7 linked regions of the Homo sapiens genome follow. The protein of the gene in region 3 purifies or fractionates together with the protein of the main gene of each other region. This does not show direct contact. Each region holds a gene or a part of one and is shown on either strand. Other genes may lie near its edges.

Region 1 (3,500 bases), on a different chromosome or scaffold from region 3:
GGAGCAGCCTGGGGACAGGCCGAAGTCCCTATTGGACACTGCAGCCACCTGCATTACTGTGCTTGGGCCCTGCAGGCAAACCAGGTCCCTCCCCATCTGGTGCCTGCTCCAGTCTCCAGCCGCACCACCATTCCACCCTTGTCTCCGAATCACCCACCTGCCTGAGGTCCTAGCAGTACACAAGCTGACCCCAGCCCAGAAATGCACTCCCCTGGGCTCCCTCCGCCTCCCACTCAGACTCCAAGTCACAGCCCAGGCCTGAGTCGGCATCCTGCTCCTGTTCCTCCCCTGGCCAGCACTTGGCTGTGTCCCATCTCTTTTTTTTTTTTTTTGAGACAGAGCCTCGCTGTGTCGCCCAGGCTGGAGTGCAGTGGTGTGATCTCAGGTCACTGCAACCTCCACCTCCCGGGTTCAAGTGATTCTCGTGCCTCACCCTCCCGAGTAGCTGGGATTACAGACATGCGCCCCCACACCTGACTAATTTTTCTATATTTTGTAGAGACAGGATTTCACCATGTTGGCCAGGCTGGTCTCAAACTCCTGACTTCAAGTGATCTGCCTGTCTCGGCCTCCCAAAGTGCTGGGATTCCAGGCGCGAGCCACCGTGCCCGGCCGGCTATGTCCCATCTCTGCCCTACTCACATGCACTGGAATGGCTGTGACCCCCTGTGCCCTCCCCGGCATTCCTAGGACTTGACGTGAGTTGCCCTCAACATAGATTTGTCCTTATCAGCGCGTAGTTTTGCTGAGTTGAAGGCTATGGCATTGGGAAGCGGGGCTGGGGTTAGGGACCGGGTCCAAATTCAAATGCCCAGGACTCAGGAGACGAAAGCAACTGAAGTGGGCCCAATGGCAGCCATGATGGGCAGAGGCACACACATCGCTCCGCTCTGTCCACTCAAAAAAGCAGCAAAGGCTGGGCGCGGTGGCACGCGCCTATAATCCCAGCACTTTGGGAGGCCAAGGCGGGCGGATCATGAGGTCAGGAGATCGAGACCATCCTGGCTAACACGGTGAAACCCCATCTCTACTAAAAATACAAAAAATTAGCCGGGCGCGGTGGCTGGCGCCTGTAGTCCCAGCTACTCGGGAGGCTGAGGCAGGAGAATGGCGTGAACCCAGGAGGCGGAGCCTGCAGTGAGCCAAGATCGTGCCACTGCACTCCGGCCTGGGCGAAAGAGCAAGACTCTGTCTCAAAAAAAAAAAGCAGCAAAATGGCTCGGTGCAGTGGCTCATGCCTATAATCTCAGCACTTTGAGAGGCCAAGGCAGGCAGATCACCTGAGGTCGGGAGTTGGAGACCAGCTTGACCAACATGGAGAAACCCCGTCTCTACTAAAAATACAAAGTTAGCTGGGCGTGGTGGCGCATGCCTGTAATCCCAGCTACTCGGGAGGCTGAGGCAGGAGAATCACTTGAACCTGGAAGGCAGAGGTTGCATGCAGTGAGTCAAGATTGCACCATTCCACTCCAGCCTGGGCAACAAGGGTGAAACTCCGTTTCAAAAAAAAAAAAAAAAAGCAGCAAAATGATGACCCTGCAGTTCCAGCACTTGTGTTTCATGAGAAGCTGGAGATCTGGATGGTATGTCAAATCTCCAGATAGCTTTTTCTAATATTTTTTGGAAATGAGGTCTCACTCTGTGATCCGGGCAGGAGTGTTGGTGTGATCATAGCTCACTGCAGCCTTGAAATCCTGGGCTCAAGTGATCCTCCTGCCTCAGCCTCCCAAAGTCCTGGGATTACAGGAGTGAGCCACCGCATCAGCCGAATCTCTAGACTTTTTAAAATTGGCAACTGATTCAAAACTTAAAACACACATTTTGGGCCAAAGGGAACTCTGCTGAGAATTACACTTTGGGCTACCGGCTTGGAGGAGGGCAGGGGGCGTGGGGGGCTGGTGGCTCAGGGGTTCTGCCCAGGGCTGTGTACTCACGCCATGGACTGGTGGAAGTCGGATAGGTCCTTCTGTGTGGCGTGCAGAAAGAGGACGGTGGCAGCCTGGGGACTCAGCGACCCGTCCCAGGAGGTGCTTCCCGCCTGAGGGGAGCAGGTGGAGGAGTGTCAGGACCTGAAGGGCAGCCCCGGCTGCGCCCAGCCCCAGGAGGGCAATACCTCGTGCTGGGTGACCTCGTGGGACACAAGCTGCTGCAGGAGGTGGAGGTGCACGGTGTAGCTCGGCTGCGAGCGGCTGGCCGAAGTGGCTCTCTGCAATGAGGCCTCTGTGAGCAGACAGGGCCTCACACTGGGTGCAGCCAGCCCCGCAACCCAGCAGACCGCCGCAAGAGCTGGGCATGGCCACTGGCCCAGTACCCGACCTACCCGCTTATGGATGAGTTGGAACTGGAGGTGGCACTGGCCTCGGTCTGGGTAGGTCTCAGTGCGGGGTTCCAGGGGGTACCACTGGTCCTCTCGGCAGCGCAGGTCCTGACAGGCGGGGATGCCCAGCCCGTGAGCGTCAGAACCTCATAGAGTCGGGGCAGCGGAGGCGACAGGAGGTGGACCCCAGGCTCAGCTTTGTGAGGACACAGAGCCTCTCCCCAGAACCCCTCCCAACCCCCTCCCTCTGCCTCGCTCCTGGGCCCCTTTCCTCATCCTCCTCACCTGCAGCCTCAGAACCACGTTCCCCAGAAAGTCGTCCTGGCCTTTGTCCTTCCGGGCCTCTTTAAAGATCCTGCGTCAGGCAGGGTCCCATAAGGGGGACGCAGCAAGGGTCGGAAGGGATTAGGCTGGAATCCACCCCCGGCCGCAGCCACCTGGACCCCAAAGGAGCCTGCACCCCAGCATCCAGTGTGCATGTTGGGGGATGGAGGGCAAAAGGAGCCCCAACCCCTTCCCTGTGAGCCCTGCAACACGAACCTGCGAAGCCCATGCAGATCCGTGAGCTCCCCAAGCTTCTGTCGGACAGACTCCACAGTGTCCAGGTCCCTGGCAGGACAGAGGTTTGAGAAGGAAGCAGAGAGAGTGCCTACGACCTCTTCCAGGAGGAGGTTCCGCCTCTCTCACCCCAGATCCCTTCCCTTCCCATCCCTAGGGGCAGGCCAGGTCACTCACCACATGTCCAGATGAAAGCTCGCATTGGTGATGTCCTCAAACTCCCTGTATGGAGAAAAGGGCGTGGTTGAGGGCCCTGGAGGGTGGATGCCCCCAGACGAAGCAGTAAGTGACCACAGCCCAGAGCCATGGAGTTGTAGCCTATCCCTGCCAAACTTCCCTCCTCCCAGCCGCATCCCTTTTTTTTTTTTTTTTTTTTTTTTTGAGATGGAGTCTAGTTCTGTCCCCCAGGCTGGAGGAGTGCAGTGGCAGGATCTAACTCACTGCAACCTCTGCCTCCTGGGTTCAAGCAATTTTCCTGCCTCAGCCTTCCAAGTAGCTGGGATTACAGGTGCCCGCCACCACACCTGGCTAATTTTTGTATTTTTAGTAGAGACGGGGTTTCACTGTGTTGGCCACACTGGTCTTGAGCTTCTGACCTCGTGATCCGCCCGCCTAGGCCTCCCAA
Region 2 (4,241 bases), on a different chromosome or scaffold from region 3:
CCCTCTGCTAAGAAGATGGCAGACCAGCAAGACACCCACTTCCAGCTGAAGTCCCTTTTGGAATTGGGAATTGGAGGTGGGTAGGAGAAGGGGTAAAAACTAAATGCGGCCAGAACTGAATCCAGACTTGCCTCCCTATCACACTGCCTCTGGCTACCTCTGGGGGCCAGTCTGCCTCTCCCCTCGATTCCACCCCATGCCCTAGTCTAGTTGTAATTACAGGTTCCAATTCCCCCAGACCTTAACGTCAATAAAGTAACACCCACCTACTCCCGCGCCCCCCACCCCCTACAAACACAGCTAGACCTCCGGCTTGTCATAAAAACTTTCTGGGCGGCCCCTTCCCTGGCAGCTCCCGAGGGTTGACCCAGAGCAGGTGCTAGAAGCCTCGCGGCGTCTTCCTGCACGAAGCGACCCAAGCAGCCCCAGTCCGCACCGCCTTGGTCAGCGGGCGCTCCCAGCACACACCCAGCGCGCGGAGCGACTCCTCCCAGAGGACGCCGAGTGTGTGTGTGTGTTGCGGAGATTAGGGGGTGGCGGGGGGGACGGCGGCAGTTTCTTGGGCTCTGGCGGCCCCACCCCCACCCCGGCAGCGCCCAGCCTCCAGGAACCCAAGGCAAGGCTAGGGCGCGGCGTGGTGAGAACGCGCTTCGGCTAGTGGGGGGAGCCCTTGCGCCCCCCGCACCCAGGCCACCGCGGGGAATCCCTCCTCCCCGGCATCTCCGGCCTCGGCCTAGGGTCCCCCGCAAGCCGGAGCCGGCGCGAGCGGCGCAGCGGGCGCCAGGAGGGGGCGGGGAGGGAGCCGGCGCCGGAATCACAAAGCCGCGAACCCGGCTAGGCGGGGACATTCTCATAAAACCGACCCTCTCGTGGCGAGCAGAGGGGGTTTTTTGCCCTACGCTCAATCCTCCAAGGCCTCAGTGCCGCCCCCAGTCTTTCCTGGCAGAAGAAATAGTAGCCGACCACTGTTGGGGAAACTGAGGCCAGAATTCTGACTTACAGAGGGTAGCTGGGGGGAAGGGGTGCGAGACCACCTCGCCTACAAATTCTGCTCCTATGCCTGCCGCGATCTCCGTTCTGGCTCCAGGGCCTGCCCGCGCACACACTGGCCTACAGCGGGGACCAGGCGGAGGGGGCGCTCAGGTGTGAGACGAACCCAGGTGTGCGGGACCCACCAAGGTGTGTGGGACCCAGGTGTGCTGGAGACCCAGGTGGCTCAGAAAACTCAGCTAAATGGCTGGAAGAGGGTCGCAATCACCGTCCCAGGCTAGCACCCTCTACAAAGGAACCTGGGGCCCCAGAGCTCCGGGGAGGCGGGATGGCTTGGCCAGCCAGGTCCAGCTTGTTCCCGGAACACCAGCCGGTTCGGCCCGGGAGTGGGGGTTGGGGAGGCGCCGACTGGGAAGCCGGCAGGCCGGCCCAGCCTTCCCGCTGTGCCGATATTTACAATAATAATGTCGCGATTAACGTGGCGGGGCGCTTGGGGCTCGCCGAACGACCCCGGCGGCTTCTCCTGCCTGAATCTGGACTCCGAGAGAGAGGAACGGAGTGTGTGTGTTTGTGTGTATGCGCTGCAGGGTGTAATGTAATGTGACACTGTTGGTTTAAGGTGTGTGTGACACCCAGTGTTAAGATGGGTGAAGCAGTGGATTCTGTGTTTGTGACCGTGAGGCGCTGCTGTAGGTGCCAATTCCTGTGTTAGAGTGTGTGCCATCAAGCGTGTGCTGAGATACTGGGTTGTGTGTTTGTGTGGGTGCAGTAGAGGGGTGCAAGGAGACCTGTGCTGTGTACCTATGTTCTGGCCAAGAAGTGGGTAAGATGATATATGCTAGGGTGTGTTCCTTAAAGGAATGTGGGGGGTGGCTAGGTTTTGAGGGTTCATCTAGTGAACTGTGGCTGTGACACTCGTACATGAGGGCACGAGATTGTGTTTGTGTGTCCACGTCGCGGGGTGTCACACCCGGTTGTGTTATTGCTCTGTAAAGCCACGGGTTGTGTGTCGGTGCTGCTGATCGTGCAGACACTGAAGCGGATTCTGAGCTGGCGACGGTGCCCCAGTGGGCGCTGGTGTGCGGGAGGTATGTCTGTGTGCACATATGCAGGGATGTATGTATGTGTGTATATATGTCCACGGTCTGGCCCTCTGGGTGCCCGCGAGAAGCTGGAAGCGGCTGAGTGAGCCGAGGTAGTTGCCCAACAAGTGTGTATGTATGTGTTGTGGACAACGGTCCTTGCTTGCTCCGTCCTCCGGGAGACCCCCACCAAACTGGGGGCCGCGCGCTTCCCCAAACCCATCCTCCACGCCGCGCGCTCCTGGAGTCTCCTTATCCCCGTCTCTCCGAGCGCGCCCAGGTTTGGGACGCGGGGACTAGGGTTCTGCTCAGCACCCCCTCCCCTCCCTCGGCTTCTCGCCGCGGACCTGGGAGGACGGAATCCCTCAGCCGCATCCCCTGCTATGGGCTCCCAGCAGCCCCCACCTCAGCCCCCTCGCGCCGAGCTCGTGTTGGGCCCCCGCGGCCTCGCTCCGCCGAGCGCCCCTCCCTCAGCTCCCGCCGGCCATGACCGCTTCGGGCCCCAAGCCGCTGCTGCCTCCACCGCCGCCGGATCCTTACCCGCCTCCGGGCAGCGCCGGCCGCCCGCCCCGCTGTCCATGAGCCGCCGCCGGCCCCGGCCTGGGCTGCGGCTCCGCACGGCTGGGGCTGGAGCTGCAGTTCGGGCTCCGGCTCCGGCTCCGGCTGGCTCTGGGCGCAGCAGCCCGGCGGCTTTGCGTCCGCGCCGCGCTCCCGCTCCCCGAGTGTGTGAGGCGGCGGCGGCGGCGGCGGCGGCGGCGGCGGCGGCGGCGGAGCCAGCAGAGAGCGGAGCGCACAGCCCGGCCCGCCCCCTCCCTCCCCCCTCCCTCCCGGCCCGCCCGCCTCCCCGCCCCCCCTCCGGCCGGGAGGTGGAGCTCGGGACCGCTCCGGTCCGGCTGGGAGGGGACCCCGAGCACCGCTCCCCAAAGCCTGGACCCCTCCCTCTGCCATCTCTTCACTGCCCGAGGCCCAGTACACAGGCCGTGCCCTCCTCTGAGCTTCACCTTACACTTATCCCACCCAAGCCTCCATCTAGGACCGCTCCTGGATTCCCCTCCTTACCCTACTCAAACACCTGTCCCCAGCTCTGTCTGCCCCCTGGGAAGTCGAGGCAAGGGAAGTGTCTCCCACAGCGCCTTCTTCCCTGGGCACCTGCTCCTCCATATCCACCCTCTTCCCGCCCAGATCCCCGATCGCCCTGTGTGGCCCTCCCTTCCCGCTGCGCTCGGGGAAAGTCCACCCCTCCCCCTCCGGCCGAAGCCGCAGAGCGGTCAGCCTCGGTGGCCGCAGCAAGCCGTGGGGGTGGGGCTATGGAGGGGACCGTGGGAGGAGGAGGCTAATGGGACCCGGGGGCTCTAGAGTGAGGATGGGGAAGATACACAAGCGTGAAGACGAAGTGCTGCTCCTGAGCTTAGGCTATTCGAGGGTCCCCTGATCACCTGCCCTCTGCACGGCGTAGTGCTGCGGCCACACGTATTTGCCAGTGACTTACATTATACAGTCACCGGGTCCCTGCCCCGCGAGGCCGCGCAGTGTCACGGCCTGTGTCACACGCCCTCGCAGTGCCACACGCTCCCTATCACACTCACACCAAATCACACACGGTGTCACACGCAGTGTCTCACACACTCCAATACTCGGTTTCTCCCATTCAGCTCTGGCTCTCTGGCGCCATCTAGAGGTCTCTGAGTAGCTTGGGAACTCCCTCTCCTGCGCTTGCGGTTTGGTAACCCAGGCTACCAAGTGTCCCAGTTCAACAGGACCTCCTGCCTTCTTCGCCTGCAGGCCCAGGCAGAGTGTTCTAGGTCAAAAGAATGAGGAAGGTTATCCCTAGCCAGGCCTAGTGCTGGGTGAGGAAAGGCTCTTGTTATGGGATGACCAGTTGTTGGGCCTCTTTTTGCCATAGCCTCTGACTCCCCATCTCTGTCCTTCCCCATTTTCCTGTTCCTACCACTCTTCTGTGCCTTTCCTCTTTCTTCTACTTCCTTCTCTTCTCAGCTCTGGCCTCTCTCGGTGGGATGCTCTTCAGGGTAAAAGTGGAATCTCTGGTTAGCTAAGAGGGCAAGCAAAGTCTGTCCAAGATCTCTCCCAGAGCAGCCCTGCTTAACTGGACTCCTTTTCTGACCTGGGCTCTGCTCTATCCCTCAGCCCCAGGAGCCCAGGGGCAGGGCT
Region 3 (3,500 bases):
AATGGAATTTTATATAACCATTAAAAAGAATGAGGTAGCTCTACTTGTCATGATATAAAATGATCTCTAAGACTTATATTATTAGGTTTTCATATGTATAGAACAGTAATGCAGTGTATTGTTCCCACTGGTGCCTTGACAAAGATATGTGCATGTATATGTAAGGGGACACATAAATTGACACATATACCATAGGCATATACACATGTCATATGTACATTAAAATATTCTGAAAGGATACACAAGAAACTGTTCACACTTGCTCCTTCTTCAGTTATTTCTTGAGGAAATTTGGTTTTCATTATTTACTGTCCTGCACAATTTGAATATTTGGTCATGGGCATGTATTTTCTTTGTAATAACATCAGTTCTTCAGAGAACTAGCTGGTAGCAGCTAAGAATCAAAAATTCCAATTATACAAGGGTATGAATGAGAATCCATTAAAATGTCTTCTAAGAACCTTGGAAAACCTAATTTCAATATAAGTCTTCATTCTAGAACTGTAAGAAAATCAGACAGTAATTATAATGTATCTCGTTTGTTGTTGTTTCTTGGTACTAGAGTCCAACAACTTATAAAGTATGGAGGTCTGTGTCAACTTCACTTTGTAATGCCTCAGATGCCTTCACCTTGTTTGTAGTATCATAGAGAGGATTGTTCTTCTCTGTGTAGCTGGCATAGGGCTGCATTTCATCCTAAGAAAGAACTCAAAGTTAAAATCAATTCAAAAAATCATCATAGAGACTATCTGTATTTTTGTAACAGTTGCCCATAGCTTTAGTATTTCTAACAGGTGCTCAAGAGTGCTTATAATTGTGTTTCTGGGCCTATATAAACATAAGAGCAGGATTTGTTCTAACATTTTATCAAAAAGTATTTGTTAACTACATAAGTCTCTGTGTGGAGATAATGGCTCTGTGCAAGTAGGAATGGAGATGAATGAAGTGATATGAGTACTCCAAAGGAGAGCTTTGGAGACTTAGTAAGCTACTTATAATAAGAGATGAAGGAGCAGGATATGTTTTAAGTTTGTGTAAGAGAAAAATAATGATAGTATTGAAAAGGAAAAGTCAGGAATTAGAGATGCTTTCAAATTGGTGACAAGAAACACCAATTCATTTCCTCAAAAGATTACAGTCTAAAGGAGCCAAACATCATATGTGTTAGGATATAGTTCATGAAGTGAAAATGTGGTTCAGAGTGATGATGTATAAATAGTATTTGATAGATAATTAACAAAGTAATCACACATATAAGCACTGCAAGTCAGAACTGTTTTAGTTTTTCAACTGAAACACTAATATTGATACAAACTACAAATTATGTTGCTAGATTTTCAGACTATTGGCTTAAGTTTGCAATTAGTCTTTTTTATCTTATCTTACCTCCTCAACAACTGGAGTAGATTCTGTTTTATTCAATTTATATTTTCTATAAAAATAAAATAAATTGAAGTGAATGGAGGAAACATCATTGTTTAGATCGAAAATGGGAAAATAAGACAGTATACTATTGACAATTGTGTTTAATTTTGATAGAAGCCATAATAAATCAGAAAGAAACTACTAGAAATAAGTGAAGAATACTGCTCGTGGTTAATATCCCCAACTAAGAATATTCCGGATTTTGAAAAAGTGAAATTATGCAATAGAAGCTTGATGCAATTGAATGCATGTAACATCTCCTCTTTGGTGCATGAAGGAATTGTAATTATTTACCCAAATGTGAAAATTAACATGCACTTTCTCTCCCAAGATCCTACCCTAAATGGCCTAATTTTCCATGCTTCTATGCCAAAGCAACCTAGCAAAGTCTCTCTCATCATTCAAAGTAGTCCAAGTCTATCTAACACCTTCAAGATTTGATTATGGGAGATTTGATGTTAACATCCTAATATACCCAATACGGTCAGTTCCATATTTCTGACTCTTTTCTAGCCTAATAAAGCTGAAGAAGAAAAAAACATTCATTAGTCAATACCTGCAGCCATTGACTTTCAACAACCAAATGAATCCCACGATGGTCAAAATAATAATAGTAAGGATGATATATGGAATATATAATTTTGCTGATTTTTTGGCACCTGGAACTATAGACACAAAAATATATGGTTCAAATGTGGTACAATCCAAATAATGTACTATCTTATTATTCAATGTTAAAAAGAAATGAGCTATCAAACCATAAAAAGACATAGAGGAATTTCAAATGTATGTTACTAAGTGAAACATGCCAATCTGGAAATGTTACATATTGTATGATTCCAATTGTAAGACATTACGGAAAAGATAAAACTAGGGGAATAGTCAATAAATTATTGATTATCTGGTGGTGAGGAAGGAGGGAGGAATAGAAAGAGCAAGGAGGATTGTGTAGGACAATAAAACTGTTCCATATAATACTGTACTGGTGGATACATGTCATTACACATTTGTCCAAACCCATGGAATGTACAACACCAAGAATGAACTCTAATGTAAAGTATGGACTTTGGGTGGTAATGTTGTATCAATGGAGGTTCAACAGTTCTAATAAATGTAACACTCTGGTGCAGGTGTAGGTGGGAGAGGTTGGACATGGGCGAAGGCAGGGCTTATATGGGAAATTTCTGTACTTTCCACTCAATTTTGCGGTGAACCTAAAACTGCTCTAAAAATTAATGTCTACTAAAAATAAAGTTATCTATATTTATATCCATATCTATCTATATAGATCATTCAATAATGTCTCACAATACATGAAATTCATATCTGTAGTTTCATTTTCAACACTTCTGCCCCATTAATAGTTTGAGAATTATTAAAATAAAACTGCTTTTTCAATACAGACTCCAGAGTTTTCAGCAAGACATCACCTTATATCAGGGTTTTGTTGCTTTAAAGATTCATTGGTGGTGAATTCCTACCACTCTGTTATAGCAGAGTGTTTCTCCCCTCCAACTAAATGGGCAATTGTAAGGAAGATACTTGGAAAAGTAACCCTAATTCTGAAGTCATCTTTCTCCCAGGGCATTGAAACTGAAATGAATACACAGCAGGAACTTTATTTATTAGCTGCTGGCAGCAATACAAAACTCTATCTGACAAGCGTGCAAATCAACCAAGGAATTGCCAGCCTGAGAGGCAACGATTTGCAAACTATGCTCCTGGTGTTGCATGAATATAGCTCAGGGGCAGCAGAGGAGATGAAGTGGAGACTGAGCAGGCTGGCCTCTGGTCCTTCCACCTTTCTTCCACAGTTGATGTTTTTAAATACTGAATTTCTCCATATGTTATATGAAAATTAAATGTTTGGTTACATTGTTTAAAACAACATTTTTTAAAACCCTTGCTTTCAAACTACTAAGCTCTCTCTCATTAAATTTGTACTAGCAGAAGCTGAAGATCCACCGTGCAAGGAAGACATCAAGGAGATCCCTGCTGTACATAGGAATTTGAATGAGAATTTCCCTTCAATTCTGAGACACTATAAATCTGACATCATATAGTAATATGAAAGG
Region 4 (3,500 bases), on a different chromosome or scaffold from region 3:
CCAGGCTGGTCTCGAACTCCTGACCTCAACTGATCTGCCTGCTTCGGCCTCCCAAAGTGCTGGGAATATAGGCATGAGCCACCATGCCCGACCTAGAATTTTTTCAAATAAGCAACTGTTAACAAAAAATTCTACACATCAAATCTCAAAATTTTTTCTGAGGAGAGACATACGATCCAAAATTGTAATAAATATTCATACAACTTATTGTGAATGACCATATAAAGAGTTTACATTAATTATCACAGGGGAGTACATTTGTCAGGTTAATGATCCATGTTCTTCTTAAAAGTTATTTATAAAACATTATTTCTCCACACTGAAAAAAAAAAGCATAATACTGAGTTGATTGCTCTATTAATTTAATGTCTTAAAACTGTACAGAGTACATACACTGCATTCCCAGAGCCCTAGCCCTGCACAGTCTAGTGAGCCACGCAAGGGCCCCATGGGCACCAGAGACAAAGGTAGCAGATTGATTGTTAAGAACTAATGAACTCGAGATACGTTTAATAAGAGAAATTCTGTGGTCACTTAGGAATTTTGTAGTTCATTATTCATAACATTAAGGTTTTTTTTAGCTGGATGTGATTTGAGGGAAAGAGAAAGCAATTAGTGAGGAAATGCATGAAAATACCTAAAAGGAACATTTAAAATGAGATTAACTAAATTCCTACGAATGTGAGCAATTGTCACTTTCAAACTTGGCAGAACCATGCTGAGTCCCCATCACTCTGAAACGTTCAAACTCAGAAGCAATGTTAACCATTCATTTTATTTCCTGTACTTTCACAGAATTCTTCACGCACATGTACTAGTATGCAGAGTTAACATAGCAGGCCTGACTGCCATCCTTTGAAAGGCCTGATTACAAAACTGTCCCTTGGCTGGCATCTGGGAATTTGGATTTGGGGAGGGTTCTCACTATCCTAACTGATAGTATTCCTAAACTGATTATACAAACAATGTGGTTTATGCTCAACAGCTGACCTGCTTTTCTTCTGGGAATCTAGGATTTTAGTATATGCCAGGCAGAGGGTACCCAAGTGTCCAGCTCCCAGTAGAAACCCTGGGCACTGAGCCTCTAATGAGTTTCCCTGGTTGGCAACATTTCACGTGTACTGTCATAACTCACCGTGGGAATGAAGTGCATCCTGCGTGACTTCACTGAAAAAGGAACTTTGGAGGCTTGCACCTGGTTTTCCTTTACACTTTGCCCCATACACATTTACCCTTTGCAAATTTTGCTTTGTATCCATTCACAGTAATACACAAGAGCCATGACTAGGACTACATGGTGAGGCCTGTGAGCCCTTCCAGCAAATCAGCAAATCTGGGAGTGGTTCCAAGACTCCCAACATGTAAGTTATCAACTTATTGCCAAATTCACCCTTTTTTGCCTGCTCTGTGAAAACTGTATCTGGCCCTTTAATATTCTCCCACCAGTTGGCACAAGGGTAAGCTTTGTTGGTAAAAAGTGCGGAGAGGCCGCGTGCAGTGGCTCAAGTCTGTAATCCCAGTGCTTTGGGAGGCCAAGGCCAGAGGATCGCTTGAGCCCAGGAGTTCCAGACCAGCTTGGGCAACAACATGGCAAAATCCTGTCTCTACAAACAAGACAAAAAATTAGCCAGGTGTGGTGGCATGTACTGCAATTCCAGCTACTGGAGTGCAGGTGGGGGCGCTGCTGAGGTGAGATCACCAGAGCCTGGGAGGTCAAGGTTGCCATGAGCCATGATGGTGCTACTGCACTCCAACCTGAGCGACACAGTGACACACTGTCTCAAAAAAAAAAAAGTGCTGGAGGCCAGGCGCAGTGGCTCACACCTGTAATCCCAGCAGTTTGGGAGGCTGAGGCGGGTGGATCGCTTGAGGTCAGGAGTTCGAGACCAGCCTGGCCAACATGGTGAAACCCTGTCTCTACTAAAAATACAAAAATTACCTGGGTGGGGTGGCAGGCGCCTGTAATGCCAGCTTCTCAGGAGGCTGAGGAACGAGAATCACTTGAACCCAGAAGGTGGAGAGGTTGCAGTGAGCTGAGATCACGCCACTTCACTCCAGCCTGGGCTACAAAGTGAGACTCTGCCCCCAAAAAAAACAGTGCTGGAGAGACACTGTAGCAAGAAAGAGTTTTGCTTCCTGCACAGGGCTTGTCTAGCACCAAGCTCCTGAAATGCATGGCAGCTAGCAGCATCCAAGGGTCAGCAGCTTCCCCAAGGCTTCTTACCCTACTACATGGTTTTGTAATGGAGTACCTCTGATAAGATACTTCCCCATGAGGCTTTCTCTGGCATCCCAAGAGGCAAAACTATACCCAGGTCCAGAAAACAAATTTACAAGAAGTTCCCTGGCAAGGCACTACAGTGACTTTTCTGCCATCCTAAGAATCACAGCTGTGCCCTCTCCAATAAGGGGTGGCACTCAGCCCAGTGAGGGGAACTCTTCCTTGGATATTCTGTCTTACTCCTAAGGGCAGTGGCTATTATGCCGTATATTACAAAATATTAAAACTGCTATGATTATTATATATCTGCTATTCTTTTCAATTCTCCTTAATAATTCTCCATATTAAACTTTCCCTGTTAAAATTACAGTATGATTTATCCCTATCCAGACTAATACAGAATAATTCTTAACAAGTAATACTAAAATCACTACAAACCTGAAGAGATGCTCCCCCATACTATTGCAAATCACTTCATCATCAGGAAACAGTTCCAAGGCCTGCTCATAGCAACCAAGTAAGTCTTGTATCCGACTGAGAGCATCAAGCTCTTCAGCCCATCTGAAAAGTGTGTACTGAAAAGTTTCCTTTACAAATAAGAAAAAAATTATGAATTAGTCAATAACATAAAAGATGAAAGAATATACATCATTAGTTGAAGATTCCAAGCAATCGAACTTAATCACTATTGAACAATCACCTTAAACTTCATTTAACTTTAGTAGGCACTGTTTTCTGAACAAGTGCACAAATGAATGAATTTTACCACCTACATGGCAATAATAAGCAGAATTAGTCTGACCACTCTCTAAACTCCCCCCACTCTTAGCTGCTGTATCACATTCTCCTTATTCTCCAGAACTGCCTCACTTTTGTCGGCTCCTGTGTTTTTGGAGTTTGTCCTTGGCCCTCTTCTTTTTTCACTCATCCATCCCTAACGCATTTATTATCACCCATGTGTTAATGGATGCTACATTTACATCTCTAGTCAAGACCTTCTCTTCTGAACCTCAGACTCATAGATACAGCTTCCTATTAGTCATTTCAACCCGGCAATGGATCTCCAGCCATTGCAAATGTAGTCCAACTCAAATATTTCCTGAACAATCCTTGTGCAAAGAACTGAAGCAACATAAATCTTGTTCTTATCCTCACAGAGGCCCTATAGAGAGAAATTTAATTTTGGAAAAGTTCAAAATGTTCTACACTGAACTCATCATACTCCTCTGACACAGGCTATAAGATTAAGACACCACTCAACCTCAAACCACAAAGTCAC
Region 5 (3,500 bases), on a different chromosome or scaffold from region 3:
CAAGGTGCCCTGTGGTATACCCTCAGCTCCTCAGCTTCCATCCAGAAGAACCACTTGAAACTTCTTTTTTTTTTTTTTTTTTTTTTTTTTTTTTTGAGATAGGGTCTCACTGTGTTGCCCAGGCTGGAGTGCAGTGGTGTGATCATAGCTCACTGGAACCTTGAACTCCTGGCCTCAAGCAATCCTCCTGACCCAGCCTCCCAAGTAGCTGGGACTACAGGTTTGTGCCACCATGCCCCGCTAATTTTTAAATTTTTTGTAGAGATGACATCTCAGTATGTTGCCCAGGCTGGTCTTGAACTCCTGGCCTCAAGCAAACATGAAACTTGTTGAGGAAATTTGACTATTTTGTCTTTTTGTTTTTGTTTTTGTTTTTGAGGAGAAGTCTCACTCTGTTGCCCAGGCTGGAGTGCATTGGCGCAATCTCGGCTCACTGCAACCTCCGTCTCCCGGGTTCAAGCGGTTCTCCTGCCTCAGCCTCCCAAGTAGCTGGGATTACAGGTGTGTGCGACCATGCCTAGCTAATTTTTGTATTTTTAGTAGAGATGGGATTTTACCATGTTGGCCAGGGTGGTCTCGAACTCCTGATCTCTTCAGACCTCCTGACTTCACTTTCACTGGGGGATTCATTTACAGGCCACTGAGTATTAAGATCTTTAAAGACAAAATAGTCTTTAAAGGCACAGTGGCTCACGCCTGTAATCCTGGCACTTTGGGAGGCTGAGGCGGGCGGATCACCTGAGGTCAGGAAAAAGACCCAGGCCTTGTCCTCAGGAGTCCATTGTCTACTGAGATGAACATAAGAACAACCTTCTAGAACAAAGTGGTTTCAATAAATGGTAGCTTTGGGAATGGCTGCCCATGCCCAACAGAATCAAGTCTGAATGCTTTAGTTTGACATTCAAGCCCCTTCCATAGTTAAATGCAGCCCAGCACATTCCAGGTTCAGGGTTGATCTCCCAAGACCGATATAGCCTACACAACACAGTTTTGTGACTCCTTAATTTTCCACCTCCATATTTTCGCTTGTGCTCTCCCCCTACTTTCTCATCTTTTAAGAGATCAGACTGGGGGGCTTATGTACCACCTCTTCCAGGAAGCCTTCCTGACTCTACATCTCTCCAACAGTTACTTGTTCTCTTACCTGTACACAGTCCTGCATGCATGATTTTGTCATCACATTAACCATTGTCTTTTTTTTTTTTTTTTTTTTTTTTTGAGAGGGTCTCACTCTGTCACCCAGTCTGGAGTGCAGTGGCTTGATCTCAGCTCATTGCAACTTTTACCTCCCGGGTTCAAGTAATTCTCCTCCCTCAGCCTCCCAAGTAGCTGGGATTATAGGCGTGTGCCACGACTCCTGGCTAATTTTGGTATTTTTATTATTATTTATTTTATTATTATTATTTTTTGAGACGGAGTATTGCTCTGTCACCCAGGCTGGAGTGCAGTGACACGATCTTGGCTCACTGCAACCTCCGTCTCCCAGGTTCAAGCAATTCTCCGGCCTCAGCCTCCTGAGTAGCTGGGATTACAGGCATGTGCCACCATGCCCAGCTAATTTCTGTATTTTTAGTAGAGACGGTGTTTCACCATGTTGGTCAGGCTGGTCTCGAACTCCTGACCTCGTGATCTGCCCGCCTCGGCCTCCCAAAGTGCTGTGATTACAGGCGTGAACCACTGTGCTGGTATTTTCAGTACAGACAGTGTTTCACTATGTTGGCCAGGCTGGTCTTGAACTCCTGACCTCAGGTGATCCACCTACCTTGGCCTCCCAAAGTGCTGGGATTACAGGCGTGAGCCACCATACCTGGCCTAACCACTGTCTACACTGGCCCAAGCCTTATTTATTTTGTGTCCTAAAAGGCTAGTCTATGAGGTCAGGAGTTCCAGACCAGCCTGGCCAATATGGTGAAACCCTGTCTCTAATAAAAATACAAAAAATTAGCTGGGCATGGTGGCACACGCCTATAATCCCAGCTACTCAGGAGGCTGAGACAGGAGAATCGCTTGAACCAAGGGGGCGGAGGTTGCAGGGAGCTGAGATTGTGCCATTGCACTCCAGCCTGGGCAGCAGAGTGAGACTCCGTCTCAAAAAAAAAAAAGGGCTAGCCTGGCTGATCAATGGGTGCAGCCAAGAGGCAGCATGGATCGGTGCAAAGACCACTGGATTTGTCATCAGGCAGACCTGAGTTCCAGTTCTAGCTCCAGAACTTACTAACTACATGCCTTTGAGCAGGTGACTTCATCTCTAGGGGCCTCTCACCTATTAACGGCAATAATAATTCCTATCAGGGAAGATTGGCCTGAAAATTAAATAAAAGAAACACGCAAAGCACCTGGCACATAGAAGCTGCTGAGAAAACGTTAATCACCCACCCCTCAGCCTCAATTAATGAATGACTGGGAGCCAGGGACTCGGGGATCTGTTGTCTGGCTGCAATAAACGTGCAGATGGTTGAGCAATCTACATAACCTTTGAGTCTTTTCCTTCCTTTGAGAGATAGAACTGACAATGGCCACTCTCAGGGTTTCTGTGAGAAGCAAATGAAACTAAGGTTGGTGAAAGGGCTTTGTAATGGGAAAGTTTGCTGAACTTGGGGTGAGGGGTGAAGGAGACTTTGGCTTTTCAGAGAAACTAATGAGGCCACTCTGGACCAGAGGCCCCAGCTAGTGCAGGTTGGGAAGGGCTGAAACAGGGCCTTGGTCCCAAAGGTACCCAGTGCAGCTGCGAAGCAGGGAAGACTGAGCAATGAAGGCCAATTTGTGCAATAGTCCTGCTTCCCCAAATGTTCCACTTAGCCTAAGGAGTCCTATTTTCAGTGCCCTGGGGAAGTGGCTGCTTAAAGGAGCCAGTGGGGAGCCATATCTTCAGATTTCACAATATCTGAAATCCAGCACTTGGCCCAGGCCCTCCAGGAATGCTCTTGCTCCCCAATAACCAGGTCCCTACTGCCAAATACACGTCCCCCAGCTTGCTGGCCCCCGATGAATAGGCACCTTTGCTATGCACACATGAGCCCCTAAGGCAGGTCCTGAGCAGAGGCCTCAAAAGAGGCTGGAGAGGACATGAGAATAGGATTCAGGGTGTACCCTGCATGAGGCACACAAGGCATCTGCGGTCAGCAGAGCTTTCAAGGAGGGCAGAGTGCGTGACACCAGCCAAGGCCATGCGGTGATGTGAAGGGGGCATTGGCCCGACACACAGTTCTCTCTGTCTCCATGAAGCATAGGAAGACAGTGGGGTCTGGAACAGGGCACTGGCTGGGCCCCTTTCCTCATGCACACATGTCTGCTAGAACACACCCTTGTACTGTGGGAAGGTTCCCGCACACACAGGTAAGCATGGATGTACACACATGTGCAGGTCATCTGTCATAGGTCCTAACAAATGCAGTCGTGCGTGAATACAGCCCCCCTTTCCTGCCCCCAGAAGTCAGAAGGATCTTTAAATTGCAAATCTGAGGCTTTCACTTTCCTGCTTAAAACATTTCAGGCCAGGC
Region 6 (3,500 bases), on a different chromosome or scaffold from region 3:
GTTCCAAGAGGAGCTGTACTCCCTGCAATCCCTGCCTGACATTACTTGGAATGTACACAGGCAACCCACTGGCCCCTGCGCCATAAGGATTTTTGCTCAAAGCTATCATAGGAGAAGCTTCTCAATTCCCTTCCCACCTTAGTCTACCTGGCCAACTAGCTGTCACCTCCCCAAGAACCACCGACCACTGCCGCAGCCCACTCAGGCTATCTGTCACCAGATGACTGACCTAAGCCCACACTTCGAGAGCCAGTGGAGGTGACTCAAGTTTGTGGCAGACCAAAACTCGGAGGCAACAGTGAAGAGCTCGCTGTACAGGCAACCGATGTGCTGTCTGGCCCCAACAAGTCCGTTCAGCTATCAAGGCTTCCCGTCCTCAGGGGCAGCAGCAAAGCTTTAGATTCAGTATCTTCCGAAGGCTCCCCCAGTACAGCTGTGACACTGCACAATTCCATTCCTACACTACTGACACTGGGCTGGGGTATTAAAGAGGACAAGCGTCTCACCGGGGAGAGTTTGATGGGTGACTCTGTCTTCTTCACCACTGGAGTCTTGATGACTTTGGGAGAAGGAACCTCCCGAGGGCTCTTGGAGTTGGGCAGTAAAGATGGTGACAGTTGCTGCACCAGAGGGGCAGGTCGGGATGCAGTCTTGACGAGAGTGTTGGCAGGCTTTCGGGGTGCCTCAGGTGGCTGGAGCAGCCTAGATGTGCTGGCCTCCTCCCGGGCTGCCAAAGCAGGGAGCTTTGGGGTACTGCTGATGACAGGAGCCTTTCGGGGCTGGCTGGCTGGTCTAGGAGTTGGCAAAGAAGGGGGTCTGCTGGGGGCGTTCCTGATCACAGCAGGTAAAGGGGGCGACCGAGGACGCTGAGGTCTACGCACAGGTTCCTAAAAAAAGGCCCACAGAGAGTGAGAACACTGATCCTAGCATGAGACACCTGAGGAAAAGCCCTTCCCAGGCCCCTGGACTTCACCTCAGTGGAAGGTCTGGTGGTCACTTCCAAGGGCAATTTCTTCAGGTCTGCTTGGGAGCGGATGGGTGTGGTTTTCTGCAAGGCAAACATCATGATGAAGTTGTTTGCATATTTTAGTATACTTGAGCAAACTTTTTGGATAGTGTCTGGAACCAGGGACAAAAAAAATAGAAAACCTGAGCCATAGTCCTACTCTTACAAACCTCCTGTTCTCATTGGGGAGACACAAAATACATAAATACTCAACTATCAGCAAATTACAGGAAACTGTGTGATTAATCCAGCAACTGAGAGACTGGCAAAAAGTGTCAATAGACTAAATTCCTATAAAAGGAACCCAAAAAGGTAGAAAGGGCCCGAAGGATAGGGAAAACCTGGATGAAGCCAGAAAGGAAAGGTGGGATTTAGCAGCTAGGGAGGCATATAAAACATCATGGGTTAGTGAGAGCACATCTGCACAGACACAGAAGCCAAAAAGGGAAATGGTTGTGTACTAAATATGATAAACAGATGATATCACAGACATATCTAGAAAAAAACATAGAAAAAATAAAAATGTAAGTGAATAAGCAGTTTAAAAGGAATAAAAGTGGACACATGAAAAATTATGCAATCTTAGAAATATTAAGGAAATTAAATTATAAAACATGCATCTTTGCCTATGAAATTTGCAACAACATTTAAAAATAATGCTCTCATATACTGCTGGTAAATAATAGAAATTAACACATCTCTGGAGGGTACTTTAGAAATAGTTGCAAAAAGCCATAGAATTTTACAATGGACCTTTTAAGTCCTTTAATTTCACTTCTAGAAAGTCATCAAAACAATTATGTGTATGTGTATGTATTAATATAAAACATATACATGGCATTATCTCCCTATTTCTATTAAAAAATATATGTGTGTTATGTGTAGGTATTCATGAGTTCATGACAAGTTGGAAGGATGTATGGTTAATGATGGTTACCTCTAAGGCAGAATTTTTATTTTCTAGAGTTTTATACATTCTAAATGAATTGGACCACTTTGAAGTATATAAGCATTTTTTCTTAAGAATAAGCAAGGTGTTATTCTTAAAATAACACTGTTGGCAAATAGTACACGTGGACCTGGAGGTTGGGGTTGGAAAGCTTTGGCAAACAACGCGGGTGAGTGGAGGGTAAAACTGAGCCTGAGGGAACAGGAAAGCTACTGAAGGTTCCTGTCACAGGCAGAGCCCTGACACAGGCTGGCTTTGCCCACTGACCATGACCCACGTACCTGAAGGGCCTCCAGCTTCTCCTGCTGCTGGCGAATTTTCTCTGTCAGTTGTTTCTGCTTCTCTTCCTGCGTCTTCATGTCCTTTCTGAATGTTCCCAGGGGAACCTTCTGCTTTTGTTCAGAAGCCTCACACCTGTAGAGACAAGGTACTACAGAGGTCGTGGCAAACAGAGCGCCAAGCTCGGCAAGGACCTTTCTCTTCAGCCAGTCTACACTGTCTGTCACAAGAGCAACCACCTCAGAGTTCCCAATGCACAGAATTAATCTTATACACTGCAGGACATACATCTATTTTTATTTCTTGGGCAGTTATTAGGTGTGGCAAGACAGAGATGTAAGGTATGTGCACTGACCTCAAGAAACACAGTGAGGGGCAGGGGAGAAAAGTACCCACAATCCCCTTGTTAGACAATGTGCTCACCGGTCCTGTTCAGGATCAGGGTTCATGGAGCAAACCCAGGTGTCAGGGTAATCTTTTTCCACAGAACTCAGCTGGAAGGGGAGGGTTCTCCATTTCAGACACAAATCTGCAGAGAGCAAAAAAACCCCACATATCAGCCACGCCCACCAACTCTATCTGTAATCCGGGTTCCTCACAGGCCCACCACAATGATGCCCCAGACTTTGTAGGCAAAGATCTTCACTCGGGCTCCAACTCTGCCTATCCTTAGAGAATACTAATTCTTCTCAGGGACACTGATTCCAGGAAGGATGGAAACTTAATATGCTGGACTCTTAACACCCCCAGCCCCTCTCCCTTTTTTATCAAGATCCTGGCTCAGTCATCCACGCACACCAGAAACCATGTGGTACCAAACCAAGTGAGCCTGGCCTGGCTGCAGCTGGAGAGGCCTGGGAGGACAGATGACCTTCTTTCTCACTCAAGAGGGACAGGTGAAACTCAGCAAAGCCTCAAGACTGAGCTCACAGGGCCATCGTCAAACAGACTTGGATCCCTAGGGGACTGTAAGTCCATGAATGTCAGTCAAGTTAGGAGGCTGGCAGGAAGATAGAGAAAAGAGGCTTGTGGGCTGATGGAAATGAGTCGGGGGGGTCCAACCACCCAACTCACCGCACTGGATGGTGGTGGGGATTTCCATAGCTCTCCGGCGTTTGTAACGCAGCTCACTGGATGGGGGCTGGTTCCAGTTGGCAGAGAGGTAGCCAAACTCATCCCAGAACTTGATGATTCCCCTCTGGGCTGGAAAGCAAACACCGATACATCATGTTAGGAGCCAGCCTCTCTCTCTCCCTACATTCAGGT
Region 7 (3,500 bases), on a different chromosome or scaffold from region 3:
AACCCTGGAGGCTCCTCTCTAGCCCATGAGAGGACAGGGCCATGGAACAAGGAGGTGGCAGAAAAGATGGGCAGCTCTGTACACAGCATGGGGCTAAAAGTGAGGGCTGTGGAGTCAGATTGCACGGGTTTGAGCCTCAGCTCTATCACTTACTAGCTGTATGTCCTGGGGCAAGTTTCTTAATCTCATGGTTCCTTGGTTTCCTAATCCATAAAATGGGGGTCATAATAGCCAACGCTCTAGTGTTGTTGGGAGGAAGTAAAGTGTTTAACACAGCACTGGGTACTTGGGGGTTGTTACCTTTCAAAAGCAAAGGATAAGGGAAGGTGTGGGGTGGTAAACGCAAAGGATGGCCCATCAGCAGGCAGCCGGCCCTCCCCAGGGGTGCAGGTGCCCTGCTGCCGCCAGGTCAGGGGAGGGAGAGCCCAGAGGACCTGACCTGCAACCTCCGCTGGCAGCCGTGCCCCTCTCTGCATGGCTACAGCAATGATGCTCCCTGAGAGGAGGTAGAGGGCGATGCTCAACAGATTCAGCCACCAAACCACCTGTGCAGAAATGGGAATGGGCAGATGAGAACGCAGCCGCTCTCCACGGGCAAGTGCTCCAGGGCCTGAGCCGGGAATGTTTAGGCACTCACCGGGTTGCCAAGCAGATAGACTCGGAAATCTGTGTCATTGACCCCTGAGAAGCGTAGGCCCTGTGGAATAGAGACCACCCTGCTGACCCAGGCCCAGCCCATCCTCGGCCACACCCATTAGGGGGAGGAAGATGGTCACCTTCCACAGACAGGGAGCCTGGACACGAACCTCAGGCTGGCAAATTCTACACGAGCTCTCTGGGAAGCAGGGTCAGAATTAGGGCAGAAAACAGATACTCCCACCTCTGGCCAACCCATCCCAGGAGGCCCCTCGCCCTGCCGCCCTAGTACACCCACCCCCGCCTCCACCGGTCTCCCTGCTCTTGTTCTTGGCTCCATTTCCTGGGAGGAGCCCCAGCCTTGGATCCTACCTGATAGTTGATAGGCCAGTGCCAGGGTTTGGACGTGAACTCATTGTCCTTGGGTTTGAGGCCACTGTTCCCCTGCATGAAGGTAGCAAAGAAAGCTAGTCAAGACAGAGATCTAGAGGGCTGACAGAAATGTGGGGCCCAGGTTTTTCTGATATAGGGCCAAGCGCCGAGCAGAACCTTCTCTCCTTCCCTTCCCTTGCAGGGAAGAATCAGGCAGCTGCTGTCTGCCTACCTACGACACTTGCTTTACTTCTCCCAGACAAGCCTCCATCTCCCATAAGGGGTCCATTCCAACCTTCTAGGGAAAAAGAAGGGAAAGAGGAAATTGTTCCAATGGGCACAAAATATATACCCATCTGCCAAGCTAAGGACAAGGTGTGAAAATGGTGGGAGAGAGGGGATATAAAATGAGGCTTACAGCCGGGTGCAGTGGCTCATGCCTGTAACCCCAGCACTTTGGGAGGCCGAGGCGGGTGGATCACCTGAGGTCAGGAGTTCAAGACCAGCCTGGCCAACATGGTAAAACCCCGTCTTTACTAAAAAATACAAAAAATTAGCTGAGCGTAGCGGTGGGTGCCTGTAATCCCAGCCACTTGGGAGGCTGAGGCAGGAGAACCACTTGAACCCAAGAGGCGGAGGTTGCAGTGAGCTGAGATCATGCCATTGCACTCCAACCTAGGCAAAAAGACCAAGACTCAGTCTCAAAATAAATAAATAAATAAATAAATAAATAAATAAATAAATAAATAATAAGGCTTACTTATTTGTTCCCTTCAGGGGCCAATTTCAAACAGAAAAGCAGAAACTCTCATGCGTGCCTAGACTTGGAAGAGGTTGCTTTAGCTTAGTGCTTCTCCACCTTTTTTTTCCACTACTGCCCCTCTACCAGGAGCCTTTGTAGACAAGTTTCTCCCTAAACACACTCCATGACATTTTAATACTTTATACTGTACATCTTACTTGTGCTTTATACATAAAAAATTAGATATTTTGCCCTCCAAGAACACATTTCATCTATTGGGAGAGAAATCAACCCTAATGCATGCTTTGGTTTGAAGGACCCAGACTCAGCCTCCCTAATCCAGCAGCCAAGAACATCTGCTAACCTTTCTCTACAGGGCAAACCAGGTCTTTGCTAAAACAGGAAGGAGTAGGGTCAGGATCCAGGATATTAACCACTAGGACTGGGTTCTGCCTTATCACTGGGACAGACTGAAAAGGCATTTCCCCAGAAGGGGAGTCAGCTGCCATGACTTAGGCCGGAGCTTCTCCACCTCAGCACTCCCAACATTTCGGGCTGGATGAGTCTTTGCTGTGAGGACTGTCCCGTGCATTGCAGAGTGTTTAGCATTCCTGGCCTCCACTCACTGAATGCCCGTAGCACTCCTACCCTCAACCCCTCAGTTTCCCAGCCAAAAATTTCTCCACAGATGGCCAAAAGTCCCGAGAGGCAAAATCACCCTCAATTAAGAACCACTGGTATAGCCTAAGAAAGACCCAGAAAGTTCAGTGGACTGCCACCCAGTGCCTTATGAATCCAGTTCAGCAAGGGGCTGGGAATAGTTTACAGGCCTCTACATGGTGGAGAGGTTGTGCCTCCAAGGTCAAAAGTGCATCCAGGGCATCAGACACAAAGGGGACAGCTGCACGGCCCCAGCGTCACTGCGGCCCTTTGAAGGACCTGGGAATGAGGAATGAATCATTCTGGACCCCTGCGGCAGTTGCTGAGGGAAACCAATTCCTTCAAATTGTACAGTTTGGTCCCAAACCCAAGGACTCCAGCCAGAACTGTACCAAGCCAAGGGAATCTTATTCACTACATTAAACTCTGAGAAATCCTGCTCTGTTGCTAAACTAAAAGAGGAAAGAAAAATCTGCAACCATCACAGGCATATGTACTTGTAAGTTGTTCTCTATGGCTGAAATCTGGATGGGCTCATTCCTGTAACTGCACCAGGCAAGGCAGCCTTCTCCTCCAGGTCCCGGGCCACTACTCAGCCAGCGGAAGAGCCCTGCCCCTGCAGTTTCTATAGTCTGGACTCACTGTTTTCATCTCTCTCCCCTCCCTGACTCTTTGTTGGCTGAATAAGAAAGCTCTCATTACTTCCCTTTTCTTCTCTGACTCTACTTCTTAGATAATGAAAGACAAAATGAAACTCGTAGATTTAGTCTTAAAATTTGACCCAGGCCCAGAATGATATTCTGACTGACAGGCACATGTTCAAAAGAGCTATGTCATCAGGCCACAGTGACAGCTACAAGCAGAGAGTCAGAAAGGAAGTGACCCAGAGATGCTTAATGTCAACTTATCACCTCCCAATGCGCAAAAATGACAAAATTTGAATTTTTAAAATTTAATCTGGTGAAATAAGTCAACTATATGTACTGAGTACTGCTTACATAATCACTTCCAGGGAAGTCCACTTGACAATGGCTTACCAGGGGAAAAATAACAAGTGCTACACCTCCCTGCAATGCTGTGGGTAGAGTGA

The links.
Region 1: the proteins of CD200R1 (region 3) and UNC13D purify together in Homo sapiens (co-immunoprecipitation; one large-scale study listed by IntAct). This does not show direct contact.
Region 2: the proteins of CD200R1 (region 3) and PCDH1 purify together in Homo sapiens (affinity purification with mass spectrometry; one large-scale study listed by BioGRID and IntAct). This does not show direct contact.
Region 4: the proteins of CD200R1 (region 3) and PRMT9 purify together in Homo sapiens (co-immunoprecipitation; one large-scale study listed by IntAct). This does not show direct contact.
Region 5: the proteins of CD200R1 (region 3) and SEZ6L2 purify together in Homo sapiens (affinity purification with mass spectrometry; one large-scale study listed by BioGRID and IntAct). This does not show direct contact.
Region 6: the proteins of CD200R1 (region 3) and MORC2 purify together in Homo sapiens (co-immunoprecipitation; one large-scale study listed by IntAct). This does not show direct contact.
Region 7: the proteins of CD200R1 (region 3) and POMT2 purify together in Homo sapiens (affinity purification with mass spectrometry, with the first as the bait; one large-scale study listed by BioGRID). This does not show direct contact.

Annotation. Positions count from the first base shown.
Region 1 is NC_000017.11:75,837,905-75,841,404, forward strand, and holds part of UNC13D (protein unc-13 homolog D), read right to left. Parts: intron 3,098-3,500; coding exon 3,053-3,097; intron 2,927-3,052; coding exon 2,858-2,926; intron 2,673-2,857; coding exon 2,603-2,672; intron 2,426-2,602; coding exon 2,321-2,425; intron 2,207-2,320; coding exon 2,114-2,206; intron 2,039-2,113; coding exon 1,935-2,038; intron 1-1,934. UniProt on the Homo sapiens protein: Plays a role in cytotoxic granule exocytosis in lymphocytes. Required for both granule maturation and granule docking and priming at the immunologic synapse.
Region 2 is NC_000005.10:141,875,611-141,879,851, forward strand, and holds the start of PCDH1 (protocadherin-1 isoform 2 precursor), read right to left. Parts: upstream 2,801-4,241; 5' UTR 2,653-2,800; coding exon 2,613-2,652; intron 1-2,612. UniProt on the Homo sapiens protein: May be involved in cell-cell interaction processes and in cell adhesion.
Region 3 is NC_000003.12:112,923,104-112,926,603, forward strand, and holds part of CD200R1 (cell surface glycoprotein CD200 receptor 1 isoform a precursor), read right to left. Parts: intron 2,091-3,500; coding exon 1,982-2,090; intron 1,433-1,981; coding exon 1,387-1,432; intron 697-1,386; coding exon 574-696; 3' UTR 1-573. UniProt on the Homo sapiens protein: Inhibitory receptor for the CD200/OX2 cell surface glycoprotein. Limits inflammation by inhibiting the expression of pro-inflammatory molecules including TNF-alpha, interferons, and inducible nitric oxide synthase (iNOS) in response to selected stimuli.
Region 4 is NC_000004.12:147,677,664-147,681,163, forward strand, and holds part of PRMT9 (protein arginine N-methyltransferase 9), read right to left. Parts: intron 2,809-3,500; coding exon 2,660-2,808; intron 93-2,659; exon of another isoform or gene 1-92. UniProt on the Homo sapiens protein: Arginine methyltransferase that can both catalyze the formation of omega-N monomethylarginine (MMA) and symmetrical dimethylarginine (sDMA). Specifically mediates the symmetrical dimethylation of SF3B2.
Region 5 is NC_000016.10:29,889,551-29,893,050, forward strand, and holds part of SEZ6L2 (seizure 6-like protein 2 isoform 5 precursor), read right to left. Parts: intron 1-3,500. UniProt on the Homo sapiens protein: May contribute to specialized endoplasmic reticulum functions in neurons.
Region 6 is NC_000022.11:30,934,275-30,937,774, forward strand, and holds part of MORC2 (ATPase MORC2), read right to left. Parts: intron 3,438-3,500; coding exon 3,309-3,437; intron 2,764-3,308; coding exon 2,658-2,763; intron 2,370-2,657; coding exon 2,237-2,369; intron 1,049-2,236; coding exon 974-1,048; intron 888-973; coding exon 507-887; intron 1-506. UniProt on the Homo sapiens protein: Essential for epigenetic silencing by the HUSH (human silencing hub) complex. Recruited by HUSH to target site in heterochromatin, the ATPase activity and homodimerization are critical for HUSH-mediated silencing.
Region 7 is NC_000014.9:77,279,384-77,282,883, forward strand, and holds part of POMT2 (protein O-mannosyl-transferase 2), read right to left. Parts: intron 1,081-3,500; coding exon 1,009-1,080; intron 698-1,008; coding exon 638-697; intron 546-637; coding exon 440-545; coding exon of another isoform or gene 301-439; intron 204-300; coding exon of another isoform or gene 154-203; intron 1-153. UniProt on the Homo sapiens protein: Transfers mannosyl residues to the hydroxyl group of serine or threonine residues. Coexpression of both POMT1 and POMT2 is necessary for enzyme activity, expression of either POMT1 or POMT2 alone is insufficient.